Linked DNA regions of Homo sapiens. The protein of the gene in region 4 purifies or fractionates together with the protein of the main gene of each other region. This does not show direct contact. Each region holds a gene or a part of one and is shown on either strand. Other genes may lie near its edges. The genes, in order: MON2, NUP210, CSE1L, MS4A4A, DNAAF5, HIGD1A and AGPAT2.

The links.
Region 1: the proteins of MS4A4A (region 4) and MON2 purify together in Homo sapiens (affinity purification with mass spectrometry, with the first as the bait; one large-scale study listed by BioGRID). This does not show direct contact.
Region 2: the proteins of MS4A4A (region 4) and NUP210 purify together in Homo sapiens (affinity purification with mass spectrometry; one large-scale study listed by BioGRID and IntAct). This does not show direct contact.
Region 3: the proteins of MS4A4A (region 4) and CSE1L purify together in Homo sapiens (affinity purification with western blotting; one study listed by BioGRID and IntAct). This does not show direct contact.
Region 5: the proteins of MS4A4A (region 4) and DNAAF5 purify together in Homo sapiens (affinity purification with mass spectrometry; one large-scale study listed by BioGRID and IntAct). This does not show direct contact.
Region 6: the proteins of MS4A4A (region 4) and HIGD1A purify together in Homo sapiens (affinity purification with mass spectrometry; one large-scale study listed by BioGRID and IntAct). This does not show direct contact.
Region 7: the proteins of MS4A4A (region 4) and AGPAT2 purify together in Homo sapiens (affinity purification with mass spectrometry; one large-scale study listed by BioGRID and IntAct). This does not show direct contact.

Annotation. Positions count from the first base shown.
Region 1 is NC_000012.12:62,469,826-62,473,795, forward strand, and holds part of MON2 (protein MON2 homolog), read left to right. Parts: intron 1-875; exon of another isoform or gene 876-953; intron 954-3,970. UniProt on the Homo sapiens protein: Plays a role in regulating membrane trafficking of cargo proteins. Together with ATP9A and DOP1B, regulates SNX3 retromer-mediated endosomal sorting of WLS away from lysosomal degradation.
Region 2 is NC_000003.12:13,322,532-13,326,501, forward strand, and holds part of NUP210 (nuclear pore membrane glycoprotein 210 precursor), read right to left. Parts: intron 3,401-3,970; coding exon 3,264-3,400; intron 902-3,263; coding exon 778-901; intron 1-777. UniProt on the Homo sapiens protein: Nucleoporin essential for nuclear pore assembly and fusion, nuclear pore spacing, as well as structural integrity.
Region 3 is NC_000020.11:49,070,268-49,074,237, reverse strand, and holds part of CSE1L (exportin-2), read right to left. Parts: coding exon 3,941-3,970; intron 1,953-3,940; coding exon 1,785-1,952; intron 1,671-1,784; coding exon 1,541-1,670; intron 1-1,540. UniProt on the Homo sapiens protein: Export receptor for importin-alpha. Mediates importin-alpha re-export from the nucleus to the cytoplasm after import substrates (cargos) have been released into the nucleoplasm.
Region 4 is NC_000011.10:60,286,809-60,290,778, reverse strand, and holds part of MS4A4A (membrane-spanning 4-domains subfamily A member 4A), read right to left. Parts: intron 1-3,970.
Region 5 is NC_000007.14:757,255-761,224, reverse strand, and holds part of DNAAF5 (dynein axonemal assembly factor 5), read right to left. Parts: intron 1-3,970. UniProt on the Homo sapiens protein: Cytoplasmic protein involved in the delivery of the dynein machinery to the motile cilium.
Region 6 is NC_000003.12:42,797,648-42,801,617, forward strand, and holds part of HIGD1A (HIG1 domain family member 1A, mitochondrial), read right to left. Parts: intron 1-3,970. UniProt on the Homo sapiens protein: Proposed subunit of cytochrome c oxidase (COX, complex IV), which is the terminal component of the mitochondrial respiratory chain that catalyzes the reduction of oxygen to water. May play a role in the assembly of respiratory supercomplexes.
Region 7 is NC_000009.12:136,677,333-136,681,302, forward strand, and holds part of AGPAT2 (1-acyl-sn-glycerol-3-phosphate acyltransferase beta), read right to left. Parts: intron 225-3,970; coding exon 91-224; intron 1-90. UniProt on the Homo sapiens protein: Converts 1-acyl-sn-glycerol-3-phosphate (lysophosphatidic acid or LPA) into 1,2-diacyl-sn-glycerol-3-phosphate (phosphatidic acid or PA) by incorporating an acyl moiety at the sn-2 position of the glycerol backbone.

The DNA.
Region 1 (3,970 bases), on a different chromosome or scaffold from region 4:
TTTATTTCAAATTTTTAGTCATTTCTGTCTTTTATGGCCATAGTGCTTGACTATTATTTTATTTATTTATTTATTTATTTATTTATTTATTTATTTATTTGAGACAGGATCTCTTTCACCTAGGCTGGAAGTGCAGTGGCAGGATCTTGGCTCACTGCAGCGTTGACATCCTGGGTTCAAGTGATTCTCCCACCTCAACCCCCTGAGTAGCTGGGACTACAGGTGCATGCCACCACACGCAGCTGATTTTTGTATTTTTTTTGTAGAGACAGGGTCTCACCATGTTGCCGAGGCTTGTCTCCAACTCCTGCGATTAGGCAATCTGTCCACCTCCTACTCCCAAAGTGCTAGGATTATAGGCGTATCCCAGGCTGCCCATGTAATTCTTTTTTAAAATTAATAATAAGCTGGATTTAAAGATTTCAAATCTGTTAGAAAAACCAATAAAAGAGTATTGATAAAGAATAGTGCTTTATTTACTGATATTTACTTACTGTCTTTGGACTTCTACATGGTTTTTCCTACCTTACTGTTTTCATTTATAACTCTATCCTTTGTATATTAAATTGTTGTTGTAGTGGCTATGGCTTTATTCTGTCATTTTATAATAACCTCTTTCTCTTTTTTTCTATTTTTCTTAGTTGTTATACATAAATCTTCATGTTTTAGCAGTATAACTTTTTTTAGTACAACTGTACTAGCTAATTTGGGAATATTGTATGAAATTTTTTCCTTTGTTTTAAAAATTACTTTGAAGCCTTCCATGATCACTTCTATGTGATTAATATTCAGTGGCCTTTAGAGGAAGACAACTCTGAAGCTTTATGTTTATGTATTTCATGAATAAAAACTTTCTTATTATTTCCTATTTGCAGGTACAGATGAGGGGTATCTAACTGAGCCTGGAAGTTGGAGGAGGGGAGTCATTCCTAGCAGAGGAAATAGCACACGTTGTTAGTATTCCATGTAAAATAAATTTTATACTGAAGATGATTGGAGCCATTAGAGCTTTTTGAAAGAGAGTAATATGATCAAATTGATATTTAGTAACATTGCCTTGACAGTTGGTAGGAAGAATTAGAGGGTATTGAGACTGAAGCAAAGAGAGCAAAGTTTAAAAAATGATGATTCTCTGTTTTGAAGCAGTAGTGGACATAGACAGAAGGTTGCTTGCATTGAGTTAGACAGTAGTGAAAGAGCGTATAGATTGAAAAGGTAAAAATTACCAAGGCATGGTAATCTTTTATATAATGGAGAGAGAGAAATGTGTGATGCCTCCCAGGTTTCTGGCTTGGGAAACTAGGTGGATCACTAAGAGAAGAAATAAAAGAGGAGGAAATGTTTTGGGGGAAAATGAGTAGTCATGTGTGTATATTGTTTGAGACGGAGTCTCTGTTGCCAGGCTGGAGTACAGTGGCACAATCTCGGCTCACTGCAACCTCCGCCTCCCAGGTTCAAGTGATTTTCCCGCCTCAGCCTCCTGAGTACCTGGGATCACAGGCGCGTGCCACCACACCTGGCTAATTTTTTGTATTTTTAATAGAGACGGGGTTTCACCATGTTGGCCAGCCTAGTCTCGAACTCCTGACCTAAGGTGATCTGCCCGCCTCGGCCTCCCAAAGTACTGAGATAGCAGGCGTGAGCCACCACACCCAGCAGAGTAGTCATTATATTAAGATTTATGTGTGACATCCAAGTGGAACTGACCAGTAGGTGTTTGAAAATGATGGTTTGGCACTTAAGAGGGAAGTCTGGAATTTCAAATTTAGGAGTATCAGTTTATAAATAATATTTGAAACCATAGAATTGGATGAAATGGGCCAGGAAGAGTGTGTGTATAGAGTGAGAATATCAGGACTGGAAAAGGAACTGTGGGAAACAACATTAAAGAAAAAGGCTGCTGGGCAGACTGAGGTTAAAGATACAGGAGAGAAAGGTAAAACTCGTTAGAGGAAGGTCCTTGAGAAAACTGAAGTTTCAGTGGCATAAGTATATGAACAGGATTTCAATCTGAGAAAGGACACATTACCTTCTGACAGAGGAAGGACAAAGGAAAAACCGGGTTTGAATGTGACAAATTTGACAGAAGGGAGCGACAAGTTGTGGGCAGTTTGGTCTGTGGCCTCTGCTTTCTTGCGAAGATAAGAAACAAGCTTGTTAGTAGGAATAATTAAGTGATAAAAGAAGTAGGGGGTGGCAAGTTTGAGGAGAGCAGTGGATCACTTTGGAGAAGTGGAGGAGAAATTGTCTTGGAACACTTAAGAGTCTTAGCAGGAAGAGTGGTTGAAATAATGGTGGATTGTGAGAGCTAGGTTGGATTCCCAAAGAAGGAAAGCCAATAGTTTGGATTGACTGGATGATGATGGGAAGGTTAAAGGCTAGCAGCACCTATTTCATCAAAGAGCAGTGGGGTTGGGGAGTGAGAGAGCTAGAAGGATAGGAGTTGGGACAATGGTGGGAATATTGCATTTCAGATTGCCCAGCACTAGAGGATGATGAAGTCCAGGGAATGGGTGGTAGAAGAGTAAAGGGAAAGAAGTTCATTTGAGTTTAGGTGGTCAGAATTAGGGAATTGGATAGATTCCTTTTCTCTCTTTTTAAATGATGCAGAATCAGTAAGGGTATAAATAATTTAAAAGTGCAAGTAGTCTTCCTAGGCTATGTAGTTTAAGTTTCCTGTTACCCATTCAGGCCTAATAGAAATTGGCTGGCAGAGAAAAGCAAAGGTTTCTTGTGATAGAGTTCCTCAGTATCCAGGTGTTTTGCTTTGTTAACTGGCTTAGGGAGACCCCTAGTGAAAGAGATGCCTTCTACTTACTGTGACAGGATTTGCCATTTAATCAGATATTTAGGGACTGTGACTAATGTCATTGGCTCTCCTGGTTGGGTTAACACCTCATTTGCACGACCTTATGACATTGAAGATGAGGGCTGGATAATCTTTACGAGCTTACTTGGGATCTGTTTTGGTTTAGTATTTTATAATGTGGTTTCTTCCTCTTGACATTGTGTTCTTTCTCCCATAAGCGTAATATAATATATTCATGCTTTATATATTGAAAGCTATAAACTGAAATAAATGATTACCTGTGCTTTGGTGACAGAAAAAATAAAAGACATATTCTCTAACTTATAAGCCAAAAAGGAAGACATATTTCAAAATTTGATTTATTTTTCTTTTTTCCTTTATGTAAGCATAGCTGAACATTTTCAACCATGTATGAAGTAGAAGGTTTTGCTGTTACTGTTATAATTTAACAGAAATTTATGAGTCTCCTAAAAAAGCACAGCAGGAACACAGAAATAATTGAGAAATTGCCTTTAGTCTCATGAAGTTAACTCAAGGTTGAATAAAATGTTGCCTTCCCACTAGGCTTGGAACTTTGCATCCTTAGACTCTAATGCAACATGCCATATTAAATATTTCATTTTACAGATGAGGAAACTGGTATAGACAGGTTTAGTAATTTGCATAAGGTAGTAAAGCTGGAAAATGGTGGAAATGGTGGAAATGGTATGTGAGTCCATGTGAGTCCATCTCTAACTCCTCTCCCATTTTCCATTATATCATGCTGCACATGCCTTTACAACTTTCTTGTTTTTGTTATTGTTCCCATTTGTTTACCTTGCTTCATTATTTGTTACTATTGGTTATTCTTTCCATCTTGGAACCCTCTAGTTTTGAGTTTTGTAAGACTGTACTTCCCTGTTTCCCCTCTCAGTATTCCACATCCTTTTCTTTTTCTTTTTGTTTCTATTTTTTGAGACAGGGTCTTACTCTGTCACCCTGGTTGGAGTGCAGTGGGCTATCTTGGCTCACTGCAGCCTCTGTCTCCCAGGCTCAAATGATCCTCCCACCTCAGCCTCCTGAGTAGCTGGGACTGTAGGCAGATGCCACCACGGCTGGCAAATTTTTGTATTTTTTCATAGTGACAGGGTTTTGCCATGTTGCCTGGGCTGGTCGCAAACC
Region 2 (3,970 bases), on a different chromosome or scaffold from region 4:
AGGATGCCATCGGCATCACAGGGAGCTTCAAGTCAGAATTTCAGCATTTGTTCCAGACCTTGCATCCAGGGGCACGGCAGACGGGCTAGGCCCACTAATGCCTGTCTTCTGTCCCTGTCAGCAGGGGAAACGGCAATTTACTTCTGCACATTCAGAGGGCACTAGTTCTCCACTAACATCTGAGCAGCATTTAGGCAACGGCACAGTGCTGTCCACTTGCGCTGAGGAAGGAGCAGAGGCTGCCATGATGGAACAGAGCTGCCTCGTTAATCAGGACGAGAAGGGCGGTGCTTCACTCTGCCAGTGAGGTGGTTTAAGAAAACAGCCCTGTTGACTTACTTATTTCTGGCAGCTGCTGTTCAGGGCTGTCATGGGCAGGGGATGGGGTTCAACATTCTATGCATGACCTGGGAGAGGTCATTACAAAAATTAAAACCAGTGACGAGTCCTGCTAATTCATTAGTTTCTGGGATTCACGGTGGGAAATTGTGGCTTTCTTTGCTAGGGTGCCCTCGGGCTGAAGTCACATTTCCAGTGCAGAACAGGCACCTTCTGGGAGCTGGGCTCCATTATGAAGATTCCTTTCACTGGCTCAGCTTTTGGAGGACTCCAATTTCAGAAACGCTGGAAGGAGTGGATGAGTGGGGGCTAAATGCCCTCTCTGGAGTTGGTGTGAGTGTGAATAGGAGAAGCAGATAAACTCCATCCAGAGGACACAGGAAGCCACCTCCCCGCTCCCAGGTACTCTGAAGACAGCCCAAGCCCCTCATTAAGTACCTCTCAGGTTAGAGCTTCTGTCTCCCACGGCAACAATCACTTTGGAGGCTGTAGCCTCCTGGAAGCTGGTCTGGATGGGGTGGAGGTGACGGGCCATGATCCTCTGAGGGACGCTGACCACCACCTAGAGAGGGAGCCAAGGAAGCTTCATGGAGCGCCGCCTGTGTCCCGGTCCATGCTGGGCGTTTCCACAACCTCACCCTGCAGTCTGTGACATAGTGTCACCCGTTTCACAGGTGGCAACACTGAGGCTCAAAGCCTAAACGCCTTGCTAGAATGTGGCAGAGAGGGGGTTTGAGCCCAGTCTGGTCAGACTTCACAGCCCAGTTCTCCCATTGAACAAGCTGCTTCCCCCAGCAGCTGACTGGACGCTGAGCAGCGGGCCTGAATTCATTAATCGATCTGGGTGGGCTGAGGATTTTGGCTGTTCGGACAGCCATGATCACTTCTCTGTAGTACAGCACCACACCCCACCCAGAATCCAGTCTGCCCAGATTTTCCCAGCTGTTCCCCCTGTGCCCATCCTGTACCTGGCCACACCCAAACAGCCCCAGGCTGGAGACCTCCCTGCACTCCCTTGGCTAGGACACCCTCCCATCTTCTCTGCAGAGCCCAGCCTCATCCACCCTTCAGGCCCAAGGCCACTTCCTGCAGCTGAAGGCCCCCCTCCCTCTCTCAGCAGGCACCAGCGCTCCCTGCCTCCAGGAGATCTGATTTCTACCAGTAGGTGAACTTCAGAGCAGGGATGCGATTGAAGCCCCTGCAGCTCCCAGGGATGTGGCCCATGCAGAGCTGTAGGTGACCAGGCATCACTGTCAAACTCACGGTGCCTCCGCTCAGGGCTTACCACCATCCACCTCCAGGGACTGACAGAGGCTGTGTCCCACTCTCTAGCCTGGGACCCCCCAACGCTGGCCCTCCTCTCCCCTTCCTCCCTGTCCACCCTCAGAGAGTGCCCAAGGCTTCCTGGCCCCTCTCCTGCCTGCACTCCTGGAGTGCCCGTGCACTCCCACCCACTCCCAGGGCTTCAGAGGCCACTTCTGGGCTGAGGCCCCCACCCTGTCCAGCCTTCCTCACAGTGCTCCTGCCGCACCCACCCAGGTGTGCCTCCTGCCTCACCTGGGAGAGCTGTGACATCTCTAGCTCCCCGGCCCAGGCTCCTCACCTCCCTGCAGGCCTACCTACCTCTGTGTGCCCCTCTCAGCAAAGGACCAGTAGCAGCCTGGTCATCCCAAGCCCTTCCTCCCCTCCAGCCTCACTTCTGGATGCTCATGGAGCTCTGATGTGCCTCCCTCCCTCCCGTCTCTCCCAAACCTGCCTTTAGATTCTGCCACACCCAGTGATCCCAGCTGAGGGCCTGGCCTCAGTCTCTGGCCAGTTACCCTGTAGCGACTGCTCTCTCGAGCTCCTCCAGGTGCCAGGTAACCTCTGCAAACACAGCCTTGGTCTATAGCACTGTTTAAAAAACTCCACTGAGTGTGGCATAAGCTTCTACCCCTTCACCCTGGAACAGCAGCAGCAGCAGCAGCTAATTTCTGCTGAGCACTGGCTATGAGCTGAGCACCACCCTAGGGGCTTCTGACGTGCTAACTCACTAAATCCTCACAACGCTATCATCCCCATTATACAGGCAAGAAAATCGGGACATAGCGAGACTCAATGATTGCTCAGTCATAGCCTCGCAGTGGCCAAGCTGGGATTTGACCTAGACCGTCTAGCTGTAGATGCCCCACCCTCAACCTGCACCAAACTGCCTGGAATCTGGTGCATTTTCTGATCTGATCACAAAGCCAGACCATGCTTCTCCCACACCCTCTGTTCCAGCCCCCGAGGCTCTGCCCTTGAACCCTACACACCTTTGTCCATGCCACCCCATCCCCTGACCAGAGGCTCTTTCCAGGAGAGCACAGCTGTATTGTCACAGGATGCCTCTGTCTGCAACTGGCTCGCCCAAACTGCAGAGCCGCAGCACTAAATATGCAAACAATTAGGTTAAACTGCTAGGTTCCATAAAGCACATGCTGCCTCTAAAAATGAGATGCATTTGGATCTCAGCCAGACTTGCCCCACTGATTCATTCTCAACTGGAGATGAATGGAAGAGACAGCAGGTTTTGTCGCCTCCAGACTCAAAGGGTGACTTGCACAGGGAGTCTTAGCCTTGCAGGTGACAGGGAAGCACCGGCTCCCAGGAAGTGCCCACTCCGGGGTTGCCAGACCCAAGCCCATGGGAGCTGGAATCCACCCTACAAGGCTGCCTGTCCTCATCACACCCTCTTGAACATGGGGAGACTGAAGCCTGGAAAAAAAAGGGAGCTTGTCCCCATGTCAGAGTCAGCAAGTGGCCAGTCCCAGACTCATGACTCCCAGACCCAACCCCTCAGACGGCTTTTCCCTAAAAGGAAAAGTCTTCATAATCCTCCCAGAAGGTCAGGCCCGCCTCACAGGCCACTGAGCCACATGTGCCTCCGGCTGCTTAGAGCCCACCTCCTTGTAGGTCCTCAGGTGCCCAGCGACCTCATAGTAAACCGTCACGGATCCCACGGCCCGGGCCACAGCCACACCCGTCTTGGGGTCGATGTGGAGGATGCTGTTGGCCGAGGAGCTCCAGGTTCCTGAGAGGCCTGGAGAGGAAGCACAGGTGTCAGCCCCCTTTCCATAGCTGGACACTCCAGTCAAAGCCCAGCTCACCTGGATGACAGGCCAGCTTCCTCGCTGGCTGCCGCTACCCCCATGGGGGCTCACTCAGCAGCCTCAGGAGACAGCCACGCTGCCTGCCCCAGTGCCGGTCATGCTCCTGACTCCAGCCACCTGGAGCCATCAGCTCTCCTACCCTGCTGCACCCGCCCTCTACAGGGCTGTGGCCCCTAGCACCTGCTCTCCCTGACCCACAACTCCCTGCCTGGAATCTCCTGACCATCCTGGCATGAAGCTTTAGCTGACTCCTGCCCAGGAATGGTCTGGTGCTGCTGCCAGGCCCTGCCCTCTGTAGCTCCTTCCCCAAAGCACAGCCCCTCCCCATCCCTTCGTTGCCTTATCAATTCCTTTTTAGCAACAGACAGCAGGTGTGAGGCTCAGAGCTTTCACCACATACACATCTGAGTTAAAAGCCAATCACATTATATAATAAGTACAATTAAAGGACTCAACCATAATCTATTTATGGCAAATTATATTTGTTTTTCCTTAAAGGT
Region 3 (3,970 bases), on a different chromosome or scaffold from region 4:
TAAAAAAAAAAAAAAGTCTACACACACACACACACACACACACACACACACACACACACACTGCAGTTGTATGATCATGTCTCACTGCAGCCTCCACCTCCTGAGCTCAAGCAAAACTCCCACCTAAGCTGCTTGAGTACCTGGGACCACAGGCCCATGCCACCATACCCAACTAATTTATTTATTGTAGAGATAAGGTTTTGCCATTTTGGCCAGGCTGGTCTTTAACTCCTGGGCTCAAGTGTTCCTCCCACCTCAGCCTCCCAAAGTGTTGGGATTAAAGGTATGGGCCACCACACCCAGCCAGAAGATTTATCCTTTAAACATATTTTTATGAAAACACAACAGGAAATAAAATCTCACGCTATATTGTCCTTAATTTCCTTATTTTGTTCCAGATGTAATTTGAAAACCACTGATCTAATAACTATTTTGATATAAAACAAAATCTTGGCCTGGCATGGTGGCTCATGCCTGTAATCCCAGCACTTTGAGAGGCTGAGGCAGAAGGATTGTTTGAAGCTAGGAGTTTGAGACCAGCCTGTGCAACATAGGAAGACCCCCATCTTTATAAAAAATAAAAAACTAGCTGAGCATGGTGGTGCACGTCTGTAGTCCCAGCTACTCAGGAGGCCAGGGTGGGACAATGACTTGAGCCTGGGAAGTTGAGGTTGCAGTAAGCCATAACTGTGCTACTGCACTCCAGCCTGGGTGACACAGTGAGACCCTGTCCCCAAAACAAAAAACACAATCCCTCCCACCTTCATTACTTGTTCTTCACAACTGTTAGAACAAGGACATACATTTTATAAATATAGGCTCTTAGCACTATAGTTTAACCTTAAGCACAAACTAAGTGGGCTTCAACCTTGTATTTATAAAGTTATCATTTCTATTCTCAAGTCGATTGTTTAAAAACAGCTATTTCTGGGCGAGGTGGCTCAGAAATGCAATCCCAGCACTTTGGGAGGCTAAAGCGGGTGGACTGCTTGAGCTCAAGAGTTTGAGACTACCCTGAACAACATGGTGAAACCCTGTCTCTACCAAAAATACAAGAAATTAGCCAGGCATGGTGATGTGTGCCTGTGGTCCCAGCTACTCAGAAGACTGAGGTAGGAGGATCACTTGAGCCTGGGAGGCTAAGGTTGCAGTGAGCCAAGATTGCATCACTGCACTCCAGCCTGGGTGACAGAGCGAGACCCCTGTCTCAAATAAATATATAAATAAATAAAGCCAGCTAAAAATTCATTGAAATAATAAATGAAACAAAATCAAATTCTTTCTCTAAATAGAAATTCCAGATAGTTTATCTTCTTAGTGTAAAGGAATTTTTGAAGTCTTATTTAATATTTCCATGAGAAAACCCTCACAGGGCACAACAAAACTCATTACAGATACTACATTTTCTGTCTTGGTTTAGAAAATAAGAAATAAATGACATACAAGTTTTATCCAGTAATAAATGAATTAGACTGAATATGTTACAAAAAACAAACACAGACTTAGTAGATTTATACTAATATACTTTTGCCATAATTACCTCTAAATTCCATGTTAGGCACAATAACCTTTTCACAGATACTTGTCAGCGTGTTCTGGTCCTCAAATAGATTCTTATAATGAGGTCTCTCACAAACTGAAGCCAGAAATTGAATTGCATTACTTACCAACTGGAACAAAACACAAAAACAAGAATATTTTTAAAAGCAAAACTCAACAGCTTATTTCTTGGAGGAGATAGGGAGAGAATGTCTTTTAATTATTTGTCTCCACCATCATCTTACCAAATCATATTTAACCTCTTGACCCGTTGTAACTAGTAAATTCCAGATGGCTGTAACAAAACGAGGCAGGTATCGCTGGAATTCTTCATCGTACTTTTGTGCATAGAGTGCGGCATTATCACAAATCTGGGATTTTAAGAGCTCCAATAAGCCGGCTTCCTCTTCATCCTCACATAAAAGAAAACAAAAACTCCAACATACAACTCTAATGCTAACATAAGTAAGAGGAGTAACTGAAATTCCTGAACTAGACTCTTTATCAATTAAATCCAAATCAAATCAGTTATTGTAAACTACAGCTATGCCACCACCAATCTTTTCACCAAGTCTTTCAAATAAGTTGCTGAATTACAAAATATTTCCGTATTAGATTCAAACAGTATATTCTGGCTGAGTGTAGTGGCTCACGCCGGTAATCCCAACCCTCTGGGAGGCTGAGGCTGGAGGATGGCCTGAGGCCAGGAGTGGTTTTTTTTTTTTTTTTTTGAGACGCAGTCTCCCTCTGTTGCCCAGGCTGGAGTGCAGTGGCGCGATCTCAGCTCACTGCAAGCTCCGCCTCCTGGGTTCACGTCATTCTCCTGCCTCAGCCTCCCAAGTAGCTGGGACTACAGGCACCCGCCATCACGCCCGGCTAATTTTTGTATTTTTTTTTTTTAGTAGAGACGGGGTTTCACCGTGTTAGCCAGGATGGCCTCGGCCTCCCAAAGTGCTGGGATTATAGGCGTGGGCCACTGCGACGGGCCAAGCCCAGGAGTTTTGAGTCTAGCCTGGGCAACACAGCAAGCCCCCAAAATAAAAAAAATCAGCTGGGCATGGTGGTGCATACCCATAGTCCCTGCTACTTGGGAGGCTGAGGTGGGAGGATCACTTGAGCCCAGGGAGGTCGAAGCTGCAGTAAGTCATGATCATGCCACTGCACTCCAGCCTTGGTGACAGAGTGAGACAAGGGAAGACATCAGAGTAAGAACAAAAACCAAAGCCAAAACCAAAACTCCCTCACACTGATTACTTAAGGCATAAATAGTAGCACAAGGTAGCACATGGTTAACTGGGCAAAAAGGTCCTTGTAAGAATTCTATCCAAAAAATTTCCTTGTGACTTTTGTGTGAAGAAAAGTTTTGTTTTCTGAAGGAGTGTTTTTCCCTCCCATTGGACTGAAATAATTATTTTATGAGAGCTACATCTTTTAAAGTTCCTATTAATATAGTCAAACTCTGAGACAAAATCTGTTGTACAACGATAGTAACAATTTCTTTCTGTACCCCACTCTTAAAACCTGATTTGAATCACCAATTCTAATTTTTAGTTTATTTGGTATTGAAATATTTTTAATATTTTGTCTTTTGTCTCTTCGGAAAGAAGGTCATAAATATATTAACAAATGAGTAGCACAGAATAAGTGTTATATGTTTAAAAGTACACAATATAAAACCCATATCAGAAATATTTACAAATTACAATCTTTTACCATTTTCTCTCTTTCTCGAGCTGTGGATAATTTTTTCTTTTTCTGAGACGAGGTCTCCCTCTGTCTCCCAGGCTGGAGTGCAGTGGCATGGTCACAGCTCATTGCAGCCTTGCCCTCCTGGGCTCAAGGTCAAGGGATCCTCACAACTAAGCCTTCTGAGTAGCTGTGACCATTAGCATGAGCCAACACATCTGGCTAATTTTATTTTTATTTTTTGTAGTGATGGGGGTCTCCTTACATTGCCAAGGCTGGTCTTGAACTCCTGGGCTCAAGGGATCCTCCCCACCTTGGCCGCCCAAAGTGCTGGGATTACAGGTGTGAACCACCATGCCTAGCCAGATGATTTTTAAAAAGGGGCTACCATTATAGAGTTTTAAGTTTTCTTAGTATCTTCAATGAAAAATAATTTTATTTCATGAAATATCCATAATGTCACTACTTTAAAGACCTACTTTCAATAATGTAATGAAACAGCCTTATATGTACACTATGGCTTAAGCCAAGCCCATGATAAGAGTAATTCTGTATACTACACACACCAAACATGTAACATCAAATAGAATCAAATATTATTACAGTATTGAAATTTTATCTTTTAACAATGCAAGAGTAAATAGGTTTCCAGACTGTAGCCAAATAACTCTTAATGAAAGAAAAAGACCACTCAGGCAACATTTTAAATACTTACATCAGTTTGTAAAAGCTTATTATCCAATGT
Region 4 (3,970 bases):
TCAGAAGAAGGGGGGTGAATTTCAGAGAAAGATAGAGGAGAAACGTTAAAATGAAAAGATTAATTATTTAGAACATTAATTTAACTTTAGTAATGTATATACTTAAAATTATGAAAAATAGTAAAATAAAAAGTACAAAATTACAAATTATAAAATAAGTATTTCTTTTAAAAAAGAAAGACAAATATAATAAATAAGAAATATATAATGTAAATGTGAATGAAGTAGTTAAGATAAGGAATTATATATAAGAATGTAACCAAAAAATCAATGTTCTTATTCTTTTCACTTTTAGAAAAGTTCCGAAAACAATTTGGACAAACAGAATTAGAACTCCATTTTTTTTATGAAAGTGGGAAACAACTAACATTTCTATAAATCAGGTGAAATGAGTGTTAGAAACAAAGATTACATGATGATAAATTTGGGGAGAAGTGTAGTGAGAGTATGAAAGAAACAGGACACCATGGCCACAGATTTCAGAGTATACTTATCAAGGATGAGAGGCCCCCCCTGAGGTGTACAACATAAATTACTGTTTATAATCCTGGGAATTAAATACATCAGTTGATAACTGTCACTTCCCTGGAAAAGTATAGTTCTGAGAATCATCGAAGTCAGTAGTAAAGGAGAAATCACCAAAAAGACACATATTTAGAAGGCAATCAGTCTCTGAATAAGTCCTCCATTGGAGTCCATAAAGAAGGAAGTAGATATCCTTGATACAAGCCTGCAAGAAGTCCCACAGATTAGGAGCATCTGGATATATATCACATATAGAATATGTAAAGAGTATAGATAACTTATTTAAATGAAAATTAAATCACAAACATGAAGTCAAAGATAAAGCACATAGAGTGACAGGACATATTTGGAACATAATCTCAAATTTCAAATACAAAATAGTGTTGACAGAAAACAATTGGCCAATGTGTTAAATAACAAGGAATAGCTGAAAATAGAATTAGTCAACTGGAAGAAAAATTTGAAGAAATCACCAAGAATTCTGTAGAGAAACAAGAAAATGGTCATAATAGAAGGGAGGTTAAAAGATTAGAAGTGTAGAATTAAAAGGTCTACAATATGTCTGATTAGAATTCTAAAGAATGTCACCAAGAAGGCCAACGAGAAGTTCCTAACCCTCATCATCATCAACACACACACACACACACACACACACACATACACACACACACACACACACTCCCCAAAACAATGAATAAACAAATGCATTCCAACTAAAGTAACTAAAGAAGAGCACCTGAAAACAGCAAAGGAGTAGCAGAAATCTTGTAGATCATAGAAACCCAGGATGGCTACATGAAGAAGGAGATAAAACACCTTTCTTCCACCACCCCTTCCCCCAGTTAGGACAATCTCTGAGTCAGCAGAGCCTTCTTCCTGCAGGGAGAAGGTAAGCGAGAGGACCCCAGCAGCTCCCATCACCACCATGGATACCTGTAATCTTACTACTGGAGACACTTAGAGTCTTCACAGGCTCTGAGCTCAGCTGATGGAGCTACCTGAAGTCCACATGTCTGTCCTATCCCAGAGGTGGTGCTGACACTATGCCCTGGCCTCCATGGCCTGAGCTGCTACTGTGTTGCCCCTTCTTGGAAACGAATCACTGCTACAGTGCATTCTGCTTCAGAAGTGAGTAGCTATTGCACACCTCTATCTCTGAGGCTTAACCACCACTACACCACACACACCTGGTAGCCATACCTGAGCCAAACTGCTGCTGTCTACTCTCTACCTGCTGAGGCCAGGCTGCCATGGAACTGCTCCATGCCCCCATCTTAGTTGCTGGTGCACACTGCCCCTCCAAATTCAAGCTGAAACTGTGGCCCACTCTCTGAGGACATATAGCTTTGATTGAGCTGTGTCACCCAACAATCCAGGCAAAATAACTGCAGTGCCCCACCTCCCTAGAACTGACTAGTTCCCTGGAGTCCAAGCTTCTGAGAAACCCTGGCTCCCCAGGGGGTCATTTCTATACTGCTTCAAGAAACCCAAGGACCAAGCCACAGACACGCTTAGTCATTCCTGAGGCCTTGCTGCTGCTACATCCAGCCTTACACAGCCTGGGATATTGCCATGCCCTACCATCCCAGTGTCTAGAGTTACCACTATGTGGCACTCCATCACCCAGGGATGGAGTTGCTGCAGTGTCCTAGTGGCTCTGGAACCAAAATTTCAACTGTAACCTGCTCCCCAGAGCTCAAGCCTCCAGAGCACCCCTCTTTCCCTGGAGCCATGCTGGTGTTGTGCACTGACCCCAGAATCAGTAACTCTTCCATCCCTGCCCCATGGGCTTGAGTTACTGAGGTTTGCTTCAAAGTTACAGCCTCAGCTTTGTGGGTAATCTGCATCCATCCATGCCTTGGTGAGTGAACCTGTGCCACAGTAGTTTTGCAAGACTCTGAGCCTAAGACCCCAGCTCCACAGCCACTATAATACTTGTGCCTAAAAAGTACAAGCTGTCAATCTCGATGGCAACCATGTGGTGTTAACTCTATAGGCTCACAGACTGCAAGAGTTGTAGGGGCATGGCTTTCGCCACCTAGTTTCAAAGGATGTCACAAATAGCTATGGGAGTGGAGCCACTTCAAAGAGCCTCCATCAGGGCAATGCTGAGTGGAAATATGGGGTCAGAGCCAACACAGAGTCCCAGTTAGGGATATGCCTAGTGTAGCCATGGTAGTGAGGCTACCTTTGAGATCTCGGAACTATAGGGCCACTAGCATGCAACGCCAACCTAACAGAGCTGAAGCATGGACTGAGCCCAGCAAAGATATGGGAGCAGGACTGTCTGAGGGCCCCAATCAGTGTCCCCAGGATTTAGGACATAGAATCAAAGGAAATTATTCTCCAGATTTAAAGCTTAATGCTGTTTTCTTGGTTGGGTTTTGGACTCACTTGAAACCACTTACACCTTTTTCTTGCCTAGTTATTTCTTTTGAACTGAGAAAGTCTATTCTGCACCTGTTTCACCATTATATTTTGAAGACAAATCACTTGTTTTGATTTCACAGGCTCACAGCTGGAAACATTTGCCTCCAGATAAATCATACCTTGAGTCTCATCCATATCTGCTTCTGATGTGACTCTGGACTTAGAACTTTAGAGTCAATGCTGGAATGGGTAAAAATTTTGAGGCTATTGAGACAGAAGTATTGTATTTTGTATGTGAGAAGAACATGAGTTTTGGAGGGTTGTAGATGAGATGCTATGGTTTCAATGTCCCCTCTAAAACTCATTTGAAAACTTAATTGCCATTTTAACAGTATTAAGAGGTGGGACCTTCAAGAGGTAATTACATCAGGAGACCTCTACCTGCATGAATGGATGAATGTCATTATCCTTGGAGAAGGTTAGTTATCACAGGAGTGGACTCCTGAAAAAAGAATAAATTTGGCCCCATCTCTCTCTCTGCTTTGTACGCTCACTTCCACTTTCCTTCATGGGATTATCCTCACTAGAGGTTTACACCATGCATGCCTTTAGACTTCCCAGCCTCTAGAGCTATAAGCAAAATACAATTTTATAATAAATTACCCAGTCTTCAATGGTTTTTTACAGCAGCAGAAAACAAAGATATCAAAAATTTAGTTTTGTGGGAGGACAGTACAAGTCTAGAGTTCTTGTTTCAACAAACATTGTTATTGTCACCTTAAAATAGTCAATTTATAAAACTACGTGGTTTTATGTAAGCCTAATGATGAGTACAAGGCAAAGAACTACAGCAGATACACAAACGTTAAAGAATTCAAAGCTTAGCAATTCATAAAATTACTAAATCACAAAGGTAGACCAGAGCACAAGAAAGAAACAAATATCTACAAAAACAAACCCCCCCAAAATAATAAAATGTCACTAGTAAATCCTTATCCATTAATGCTAACCTTAAATATAAATGAATTAAATCTTTGAACAAAAGTCAAAGAGCGGCTGGAAAATTTTTAAAAAA
Region 5 (3,970 bases), on a different chromosome or scaffold from region 4:
CAACCATAAAAGGGCGTGCTTGTTGATGGGAAAACTGAACACAGACTGGGAGCTAAGGAATCTGTGCTTATTTTGTGAAATGTGAACAGGCACTTGAGCTATGTGGTGGAGAAGCTGCGTTAGTGATGCACACGGCACCTGTGAGGGAAATGACGGCGCACTGCATTATCTGCTTTACAACATGCCCAAGTTCTCCCCGCCCTCCAAAGTTAAAAAGAAAAGTGGCCCCAGGCAGGCAGAACACGCATGCCAAGGGCTGGTCAGCGCTGAAGCTGGCAGTCGCTCTGCTGCCTGCCCCTCTTCTGTGCATTTTTGAGCTTTTCTATAACACCAAGTTTTAAGACAAATAAAATTCTATGGCTTAACATGTTTACTGATTGACGGGGAGGTGGAGTCTCAGCTCTGCACCTACGGCTGCGCTGGATGAATGGCTTCCCCTCCCGGCTCCAGCCTCATCCACTGTGAATCAGCCAGGCTCTGAAGCCCGCAACACAGCAGGCGTGTGCTGGACCCAAGAATTCCTAAGGCTTTGCGTGTGCTTACTTCTTTCTAAATAAATTTTAACTTATTTTTTAGAGACAGGGTCTTGCTCTGTCGCCCAGGCTGGAGTGCAGTGGTGCAATCGTGGCTAACTGCAGTCTCAAACTCCTAGCCTTAAGTGATCCTCCTGCCGTGGCCTCTCAAAGTGCTGGGATCATAGATAAGAACCACCACGCCTGGCCTGTATTTACTTCTTATAACGTCCCTCTAATGTCTATTTTATGTATGTTTCATAAAGTACAGAGTGAGTCAGGACCGTGGCCATGTAATTTAAACACGTGATTTATCAACAGTGTACATATATTGGAGGCCTATGCTTAAAAACTGTTTTTACTAATGGGGGTGCAAGTTCAAAGAAGTTTGGTAATTATTTGGCTAGACAATGGGTTGGTTCTAAATTTCCTAATCAGCTCTAAAACTCTAAGCCTCATTCCCCACTGACGTAAATCATGGAAGACTAAACAAAACACTCCCACTGTACTACAGCAGCGTTCTGTCCTTGCACCCCGGCCCCGCCCTGACCCACAGAAGACACAGAGCTGCATGGCTCCATCTCCCTCGGAGCTGGAGGAGCCGCGCGGCCCCGTCTCCCTCAGAGCTGGAGGAGCCGCGCGGCCCCGTCTCCCTCGGAGCTGGAGGAGCCGTGTGGCCCTGTCGTGGCCCCAACTCCCACAGAAGCCACAGATTTGTTTTTATTCCATTCCTGATTTTTCCCACAGCCCAATTTCTCTAAGGCCTGTACTAACTGGCTGACTTCTGAGGACAATATCTGGCTAGTTTCTAGAATGACCTGTCATGTACATTTCAGGAGCGATCATCTTTTCGGTTAAAATCAAAAGGCAGGTGCGTTTAGAAGACACAGCCCCTCCTGGCTGACCACACCTCCAAGCACAGGAACAAACAGGGAATCAGGCATCCTTTGCAGCAAGCACCACCCTCCTGCCACGAACGCAGCACCGTCTCTGAGGAAGTGACAAGACTTCACATTTATAGATTTCTCTATATTTGACCAGACAATTTTCAGTGTCTGCCTACATACAACGCACACACACAGAACGAAAAAGAAAAAAGATACAGCAGGAAATAATTCTCAGTATTTTTTGAAATACTATTTCAAACATTGTTTTCTGAAACAATGTTATCTAAGACTGCAAAGGTTTTTAATTCAGAAAAGCACAAGAGACTCCTATTTCAACAATGGCAATGGCATCCCACAACTGCTGGCTTCCCTGTGTGAGAAGCAAATCGGTGAGTTACCCATTTCCTCACTCTAGACACCTGTCCTAAACTCCTTCCCAGGAGACTCCAGTTCCCGTCTGTCGAGCTCTAGGGGACCTACTGGGCCCGAGACACCTGGAAGTACCTACTGCTAAAGCCAGATTTCCTGTGAACCCCAGGGCAGGGAGTGAAGCCAGGCTCAGTTTAGAATACATTTACACGGACTTCTCTGTTTAAACACGAGCTTTTAAAACAATTTCGGTTTGTTCTTGAAAGACATTTTCAACCTGTTCTCATAGCTACTGGAGAATAGCTGTGGGAAACATAATCGACTTCCCAAATGACATGACACAAAGCCCGGCCGGCCGCGGGAAGAGCACAGGGGCGTGGGAAGAGCACAGAACCACGGGCCTGATTCTGACTGAGACCTGAGTACCTTCACCCTTTCTTGCCAAAAATTTAAGTCTGTTAAGGAGTAAAATGGGGCCAGGTGCGGTGGCTCACACCTGTAATCCCAGCACTTTGGGAGGCCGAGGTGGGCTGATCACTTGAAGTCAGGAGTTCAAGACCAGCCTGGCCAACATGGAGAAACCCCGTCTCTACTAAAAACACAAAAATTAGCCGGGTGTGGTGGTGCATGCCTGTAATCCCAGCTACTTGGGAGGCTGAGGCAGGAGAATCGCTTGAACCTGGGAGGCGGAGGCTGCAGTGAGCCAAGATTGCGCCACTGCATTCTAGCCTGGGTGACAGAGCAAGACTCTGTCCCAAAAAGTAAATAAATAAAAATAAATAAAAAAAAATTACCCAGGTGTGGTGGTGCACACCTGTAGTCCCAGTGACTCAGGAGGCTGAGGTGGGAGGATCAACCTAAAACAAAAAAATAAAAACAAGAAAGGAGTGAAATGTACGTCTTGGGTTTTCACTGTGACTGGCTCCTTGGCCAAAGGGCCGACACACGTTCGCAGCCTGGAAGGTTGAGGCTGGCTTCCCAGGGGTCCCGTGTGACTGGACTTTGTCAGAAAGACGTCTCTGTTTGAAAGATTGTGATTAAATTTTTCCTCGATAAAACTGGAAGATGGGGAGCCAAATGCACAACTGTGGGATGACACAATTCCGTTTTCCTGTAACCAACATGGAGATGTGAAAACTACACTTTCTTTGCTATAAAGTTTGTGAGATAAGGATTTAGGCACCTGTGCACATTTTCAAGTTATGCCCTTCTAGGAAAAAATGCTTCTGGCTTGCAAATCTGTATACAGAAATCAAAGGCATCCTCATAACCCCTCGTGGGTGAAGGAAAGTGGAGAACTGACACACATTCGATGATGTGTTAAAAACGGGTTTTGGGAAAAGCTGAAGCATGGCTGAAATGCCATGAGCACGCGGCCCGGGCCCCTCCCCCGCTCCCTTCCTTACCCCAGCTCCGTTTCCTTCCCTCTATGTATTCCAGGAACTGCTTACAGGTTTCTTAAAACAGTTTACAAAAATGACTGTCAACAGCCCCACCTCTCGTTCTGAGGACGGAGAGGGAGCCTGACACAGGACAGGCCGGGCTGAGAGCACAGTGGCAAGTCCCCGTGCCCCAGGCCAGCTTTGGGGCCATAGAAGCCGCCGGAAACGATCGAGCCGGAGCAAGTGCCTCCAGGGGTGAGCTGAGGCCCGCCCTGCATGGCACGGCCGCCTGGTGGGGGCAGCCCTGTGTCCCAGAAATATCTGGGGTGCTGAGTCCAACACACACACTGACAGGGACCACTCACCTTCAAATGAAAGCAAAGCCATCACCTCTTCTTCCATGGAATACAACTATGGATTATTCCAAACAATTGAGCCCAACTACCCAGGCTGTTCCAGCTTCTGAGCTCAAGGATTTGCTGCTCAATTTAAAATTAAACAAATGTCTCTGGCAAATCCTCAGCTGGGCTGTGAGAAGCACAGATCGGAACGCCAGGCAGGGCTGATGGGGAACAGGCTGTCAGTGCCCCCTGAGGACGTGCGATCTGTGCAGGTACCCTGGGGACTGGATGGGATGGTGGACGTGCGACCACGCTCCTCAGGGGTGGGATGACGTGGACCCCACATCTACCCCCAGCAGCATGGGCCAGAGGGTCCCGGCCATGGACGCCTCCTGAGTCATCAAACACGTGAACTGTGGTGTGTGGCCAAGAAAGGGGCAGCAACGAATGTAAACGTGAGCGGCCGCCTGCAGCTGGGG
Region 6 (3,970 bases), on a different chromosome or scaffold from region 4:
TGGGAGGTGAGGAGCGTCTCTGCCCGGCCGCCCCGTCTGAGAAGTGAGGAGACCCTCTGCCTGGCAACCACCCCGTCTGAGAAGTGAGGAGCCCCTCCGCCCGGCAGCTGCCCCGTCTGAGAAGTGAGGAGCCTCTCCGCCCAGCAGCCACCCCATCTGGGAAGTGAGGAGCATCTCCGCCCGGCAGCCACCCCGTCCGGGAGGGAGGTGAGGGGGGGTCAGCCCCCCGCCCGGCCAGCCGCCCCATCCGGGAGGGAGGTGGGGGGTCAGCCCCCCGCCCGGCCAGCCGTGCCATCCGGGAGGGAGGTGGGGGGGTCAGCCCCCCGCCCGGCCAGCCGCCCGGTCCGGGAGGTGAGGGGCGCCTCTGCCCGGCCGCCCCTACTGGGAAGTGAGGAGCCCCTCTGCCCGGCCAGCCGCCCCGTCCGGGAGGGAGGTGGGGGGGTCAGCCCTCCGCCCGGCCAGCCGCCCCGTCTGGGAGGTGAGGGGCGCCTCTGCCCGGCCGCCCCTACTGGGAAGTGAGGAGCCCCTCTGCCCGGCCAGCCGCCCCGTCCGGGAGGGAGGTGGGGGGGTCGGCCCCCCGCCCGGCCAGCCGCCCCGTCCGGGAGGGAGGTGGGGGTGTCGGCCCCCCGCCCGGCCAGCCGCCCCGTCCGGGAGGGAGGTGGGGGGGGTCAGCTCCCCTGCCCGGCCAGCCGCCCCGTCCGGGAGGTGAGGGGCGCCTCTGCCCGGCCACCCCTACTGGGAAGTGAGGAGCCCCTCTGCCCGGCCAGCCGCCCCGTCCGCGAGGGAGGTGGGGGGGTCAGCCCCCCGCCCGGCCAGCCGCCCCGTCCGGGAGGGAGGTGGGGGGGGTCAGCCCCCCTGCCCGGCCAGCCGCCCCGTCTGGGAGGTGAGGGGCGCCTCTGCCCGGCCGCCCCTACTGGGAAGTGAGGAGCCCCTCTGGCTGGCCAGCCGCCCCGTCCGGGAGGGAGGTGGGGGGTCAGCCCCCCGACCGGCCAGCCGCCCCGTCCGGGAGGGAGGTGGGGGGGGTCAGCCCCCCGCCCGGCCAGCCGCCCCGCCCGGGAGGTGAGGGGCGCCTCTGCCCGGCCGCCCCTACTGGGAAGTGAGGAGCCCCTCTGCCCGGCCACCACCCCGTCTGGGAGGTGTGCCCAACAGCTCATTGAGAACGGGCCAGGATGACAATGGCGGCTTTGTGGAATAGAAAGGCGGGAAAGGTGGGGAAAAGATTGAGAAATCGGATGGTTGCCGTGTCTGTGTAGAAAGAAGTAGACATGGGAGACTTTTCATTTTGTTCTGCACTAAGAAAAATTCCTCTGCCTTGGGATCCTGTTGATCTGTGACCTTACCCCCAACCCTGTGCTCTCTGAAACATGTGCTGTGTCCACTCAGGGTTAAATGGATTAAGGGCGGTGCAAGATGTGCTTTGTTAAACAGATGCTTGAAGGCAGCATGCTCGTTAAGAGTCATCACCAATCCCTAATCTCAAGTAATCAGGGACACAAACACTGCGGAAGGCCGCAGGGTCCTCTGCCTAGGAAAACCAGAGACCTTTGTTCACTTGTTTATCTGCTGACCTTCCCTCCACTATTGTCCCATGACCCTGCCAAATCCCCCTCTGTGAGAAACACCCAAGAATTATCAATAAAAAAATAAATTAAAAAAAAAAAAAAAAAAAAAAGAATCTTATAACTTCCAGCTGCACGACTCCTAAACCATAATTTCTAATCTGTGGCTAATTCATTAAACCTACAAAGGCAGTCTAGTCCCCAGGCAAGAAGGGGGTTTGTTTTAGGAAAGGGCTGTTACCATCTTTGCTTTATTTTTCTATTTTTGTTTTATGAGACAGGGTCTAGTTGCCACGCAGGCTGGAGCACGATCTCGATCTTTGCTCACCGCAACCTCTGCCTCCGAGGTTTGAGTGATTTGTGCCTTAGCCTAACAGCTGGGATAACAGGTGTGCACCACCATGCCTGGTTTTTTTTTTTTGTATTTTTAGTATAGATGGGGTTTTGCCATGTTGGCCAGCCTGGTCTCAAACTCCTGGCCCCAAGTGATTTGCCCGCCTCAGCCTCCCAAAGTGCTAGGATTATAGACGTGAACCATCATGCCTGGCTCCATCTTTTTTTGGCTAGGTCAGATCTCTTTCACTGTCTCAGTTATAATTTTGCAATGGTGGTTTCAATCACAGTGTAATTAGTTGTCAAAAGCCTAACACAGACAAGGTCTGAATTTAGAGAGAGTGATGTATTTTAGCTAAAGGAGGTTTGGCACGTTTCACAGAGAAACACTTGAGACTGGCTTTGAAGAAACTGCATAAATGGACTGGATAGAGAGATTAAACACTGTATTTATTTTAGGCCAGTATGTTTACTAGTTGCCTTCATATCTAATCATGAACTTCTCGGGCAGGTGCGGTGGCTCATGCCTGTAATCCCAGCACTTTGGGGCACCAAGGTGGGCAATCACTTGAGGTCAGGAGTTCGAAACCAGCCTGGTCAACATGGTGAAACCCCCATCTCTACTAAAAATACAAAAATTAGCTGGGCATAGTGGTGTGCATGCCTGAAATCCCAGCTACTTGGGAAGCTGAGGCAGGAGGATCGCTTGAACCCGGGAGGCAGAGGTTGCAGTGCGCTGAAATTGTGCAACTGCACTCCAGCCTGGGCCACAGAGAGACTCTGTCTCAAATTTTAAAAAATAAAAGAAAAAGAAAAAGAAAAAGAAAAAAAAAACATGACCTTCTCAAAGGGGAAGTTTATCACAAATCCTTTCATTTCCCTTCCCAACCCCACATTCTGACCACATTAAATATTTTTAAGATGCTCTCTATACCTCTAAGCCTTTGCACAAGCTGATTCCTCTACTTGTGAGAGTTTCCCTCCCTTTCCATCCCCTTCAGATACTCTTTCCTAGCTAACTCCTCCCATTTTTTTTTTCAGGTTTGGTTTTTCTTTTTTTACACTGAGTCAGAACATTATTTTAATAGTTACAAAACTTTTTTTTTAACAGAATCAGTATAAAATAGCAGTTGATTTCTCCATAATTATCAGAATTATTTATATTTGAGGTCTTGCCTAAGTGGGGCTGAAATCAACAAAAGGTCTTGGACTACTGGCTCAGAAATCATCCTAGGAAGCCCGCCCTGTTGACATTTGTCATGCTTAGCTCTTATGAGATGACCCGGTCCTTTAAAAAAAAAAAAAGTATCTCCGTTTATTCTGTTTATTTGGAGGTTTGAAGTGAATTCGGCAGCATTCATTAAACTCCTTCCAGCTCCTGTCATTTATCATTCTGACTACATCCATTTCAACTTTGCCTGCTCTGTTCTGAGTTGCTTTAACAATATTAAATCGTCCAAATTCTTTTCTCTCTCTTCTCAGAGGTTTTTTACTACTGCTGAGGTCTGGGCTATATAGTTTTTTATGACTCTGTCCCTACTGGCATGAGCTGCCATCAAAGACTCAAAGTTGTTTACAGGTTTGGCTGGCATCAATCTTCCCTGCAAAGGAAGCTGTTGGAACTGTAGTGTTTAATTAATGTACTAGTCTGTATCAACTGTCCACATCACCTTGAGTAATTCCTGGAACTCGGCGAACTCCTCACAGTTCACACTGCCACTGGGTGCCACCATACTGGACTCAGGTTCACATCTTAATTGACCTCCTCTCAGAAATTTTTGTCTCTTTAAGTTCGTAAGTGCTTTGGTTATGCAGTCCCATAGGACCTTGTACTTTCCTTATAACCCTTATAAGCACCAGTTTGTCTGTTTCTTTTGCTAGAATCCTTCAAGTCAGGGACCAATACCTGCTCTGCTTGTATCCAACTCCACTGCCTGGTGCAATACCCTATATATAATATGTACACTACAAATGTTTCTTGAATACATTTAAAAGTTACATTTCTCAACAACTGAAAGCATTCTTAGGTTATTCAGTAATATTGAGTACAAAAAAATAACAATCATACAGATTTGTAG
Region 7 (3,970 bases), on a different chromosome or scaffold from region 4:
GTGTCCTCGTCCCCGGGACCCAGCCCCACACAGCCCCAGCTCAGCCGGCCCCACTCAAACCCCAGAAGCCACCCCCGAGGCCCGGCCTACCCATCATGTCCAGGATGCTCTGGTGGTTGGAGACGATGACACAGGGACGGGCCTCCTGCAGCCTGCGCGGGTCCCGCACCTCGAAGCGGAGCCCGTAAAAGTACTTGAAGCTTCGCACGAACCAGCCGATGATGCTGCAGGGGAGGCCACCATGAACACGGGTCCCACAGATCCCGCAGCCGAGGCTGGGGCGCGAAGGCCTGGGGGTGGGGTGTGGAGGAGGCTGGGGAGGGGCCCTCCTGGCACGGGGCAGGAGACCGGGAGACACAGGGGAGGGAGCCCCTGAAGCGGACAGAGTCCCGGGCCCGGCTCACCCACCTGGACGGCTGCCCTGCCTCCGTCTCCCCAGCAACAGAGGAAAACCCAGAGCCTCTGGAACTCGGATGCTAGGAGCATGGGAAGGCGCCCACTTCCAAATCCACATCCAGGGCCCACCCAGCCCTCATCCACCCCACAGGGGACCCAGCCGGAAAGGAACTGGCACTGGCTCTCACGTCCGCTATGAAGGACCCACGTCGGGGAGAGCAGCCTCTGCACCCCAGCAGAGGAAATGGGGCCCCACACACCCTGGGGAAGGTCACTGGCCCCTCAAGGCAGGGCCACATCAGGAAGAAAGTGTCGGCGCCAGTGGAGACCTCTGAAACGACCTCCGAAAGGTTCTTCCAGAAAAGAGCCGAGACCGAGACCCTCTCTCACCCCTACCCTACAGAATCAGGCCGGTTCCCTTTCCCCGTGAAGAGGCGGCGAGGGGCTCGGGGCTTGTCTGAGGTCACACCAGGAGCAGCAGCAGAGCCAGGGTCTGGGCCACCTGAGCCCTGGCCACAGCAGCCCCCACTCTGGCAGGGGCCCAGCCCACTGGGGGCTGCCCTTGGAGCACCTGCAAATGTGAGGTGGCCTTGTCCAAGCAGCCCGTCATGGTTGGGACCAGGGATGTCCAAGGGGTACCCGAAGACTCTGACCAGCTCCGAGCGTCCCAACCTCTGCCCTGCTGTGCTGCCAGGAAGCTCTGGGCACACCCCAGATAGGGCACCCCATCACAGGGCAGCCGGCGGGGATGGAGCCAGGAGGACGGAGCTCCACTCCGAAGCTCCAGCAGGGGTGGATGGCCGGGGCAAGGCTGTGCCAGCGCTGACTGGGGGGCTGCCAGTGCTGCTCCCCTCTCCATGCAGACTAGTGCCCCCCACCATTTGATCCCCCAGCAGTCCTAAGGGCCCCACACTTTCTACAGATGAGTCTGAGTAACTGCCCCAGGCCACAGAGCAGAGATTCAAAGCCGGGGCCTTCTCTCAAAGCCATACTGGTGGGGATTTTTGTTGTTTTAACAGGGTCTTGCTCTGTCACCCAGGCTCCCCTTGCTCTGTCTTGCTCTGTGACACAATGTGTCACATTGTGCAGTGTCACAATCTGGGCTCACTCCAGCCTCCACCTCCTGGGCTCCTCCCACCTCAGGCTCCTGACTAGCTGGGACCACAGACGTGAGCCACCACACCTCGCTAGTTTTTGTATTTTTGGTACAGATGGGCTTTCACCATCTCTGGCCAGGCTGGTCTCGAACTCCTAGGCTCAAACAACCTGCCGACCTCGGCCTCCCAAAGTGCTGGGCTTACAGGCCTGAGCCAACTCGCCCGGCCTTTAAAAAAAAATTGTGGTAAAATACACGTAACATAAAATGTATCTCCTTGGCCTTTTCCGGGTGCACAGTTCATGGGCGCTGGGCACATTCGGTGTCTAGCAGCCATCTCCTCCCTCTATCTCCAGAACTCTCCACCTTCTCTGGCTGACGTCTGTTCCCATGCGACACAAACCCCTGTCCCCTCCCCAGCCCTGGCACTCTGCCCTTCCATGTGTGAGCCCAGGCCTGCGGCAGCACCACCTCAGGCTGATGGGGCAATGCTCATGACCCCCTGTTGCAGATGGGGAAACTGAGTCAAGGGGGGCCTAATGGTTAATTCTGGTGATGAGTCCAGCCGTCCGTCCCTGGACTTGGAAGCCTGGGGCCTCCTCAGATCTGCCTTCCTCAGCCAACTCTAGATATCTCCTCTCCAGGCCGCGCCGGCCACCGTCCCCTCCCACCCAGAAGGCACACCCGGGCTGGTAGCACCCGCACACTCAGGGGAACTGCAGGGCTGTTTTGCCTCCACACTCATTTGCGCAATCCAGCTTCCCGGACCCCTGTGACGCTCCAAGAAGACGAGGAGGCAAAAGCCGGCAGTTCACCAACAGGAAACACAGAACTGTCTGGTGCTAGCAAGACGGCCGTGTCGCCAATCAAAGAAGCGCAAATGGAAACAAGAGACTGTCCTCATCCTTCCCCCTGGCACAGATTAAAACGCCTGATAACAGGAGGTGCCAGCCAGGGTGTTGGGAACAGGCCCAGCGGCTGGCAGGAGTGAGGAGTCGCACAGACAAGATACTTCTGTGGAGGGCAGGTTGGCAGGCCCGGCCAGAGCCCTGAGGAAACCTGGCCCCTCCCCTCTCAGAATCTTCCAGGAATTCGCCCGACGGCTGGAGTGAGAAGCCTGTGGTGCTGAAGTGTGCAGTGAATTAGGAAAACCTGAAAATGCTTAAATAGCCACCAGTAGAAAGAGGGAAAGTAAATTAGGGTCCATTTCACAGACAGCTGGGGCGCGGGGAAAGAACAGGACAGGTCCACACTCATCTCCTGTGAAGGACATGTGTATGATTTCTAGCAGCAGCCAAGACACACCTGCAATTCCAAAGCTAGCTGCCTGCAGGAGGCTCGGGCCACATCTGAAAGGGACATTGGTTCCCTCTGGTAGTGACATTGGCCAGTTCCATCTTTTATTTACTTTTTTATTTTTGAGACAGGGTCTCACTCTGTCACCCAGACTGGAGTGCAGTGGTGTGATCTCAGCTCACTGCAACCTCTGCCTCCCGGGTTCAAGCAATTCTCCTGCCTCAGCCTCCTGAGTAGCTGGGATTACAGGTGCCTGCCACCAGGCCTGGCTAGTTTTTGTATTTTTAGTAGAGACGGGGTTTCACCATGTTGGCCAGGCTGGTCTCGAACTCCTGACCTCAGGTGATCCTCCCACCTCGGCCTCCCAAAGTGCTGGGATTACAGGTGTGAGCCACCGCGCCCGGCCAGCTAGTTTCTTAGTGTTAACAACTGCATCTTGGTGATGTAAGATGTTAACAAGGGAGGAAACTGGTGAGGGCCACATGGGGTCCCCCGTAATATCTTTGCAACTTCTCTGTAAATCTGAAATTATTAAAAAATAAGATCTTCATTTATTTTTTATTTTTTTTGAGACGGAGTCTTGCTGTCACCTAGGCTGGAGTGCAGTGGCGAGATCTCAGCTCACTGCCATTTCCACCTCCCGGCAAGCGATTCTCCTGCCTCAGCCTAGCAAGTAGTTGGGACTACTGGTGTGCGCCACCACACCCGGCTAATTTTTGTATTTTTAGTAGAGACGGGGTTTCACCATGTCGGCCAGGCTGGTCTCAAACTCCTGACCTCATGATCCGCCCGCCTCGGCCTCCCAAAGTGCTGGGATGACAGGAAGGAGCCAGCGCGCCGAGCCCTCCTCTGTTTTGATTGTGGTATAACACGCACCACCTAAACAATATAATTGTACCCATTTCTCAGCACACGGTTCCGTGGCACTCGGCGCATTCACTGCCGTGTGGCCAGCACCACCCTCTAGCTCCAAAACTTTTCCTTTTTTTTTTTTTTTTAATCTAAGCTGCTTAGGGGTTGGATCGTGCACTGATACTTCTCTCAGCTGTGAAAGACACGGGGTACAAACCCCCGCCCAGCAGGCGGTGCTGAGCAGGCGCTGTGTCCCGCCGCCCACCACCGGCCCCTGGTCCTCAGGCCAGACAGATGGACGGACGGAGGCTGCCCCAGGCCAGCGGGAGG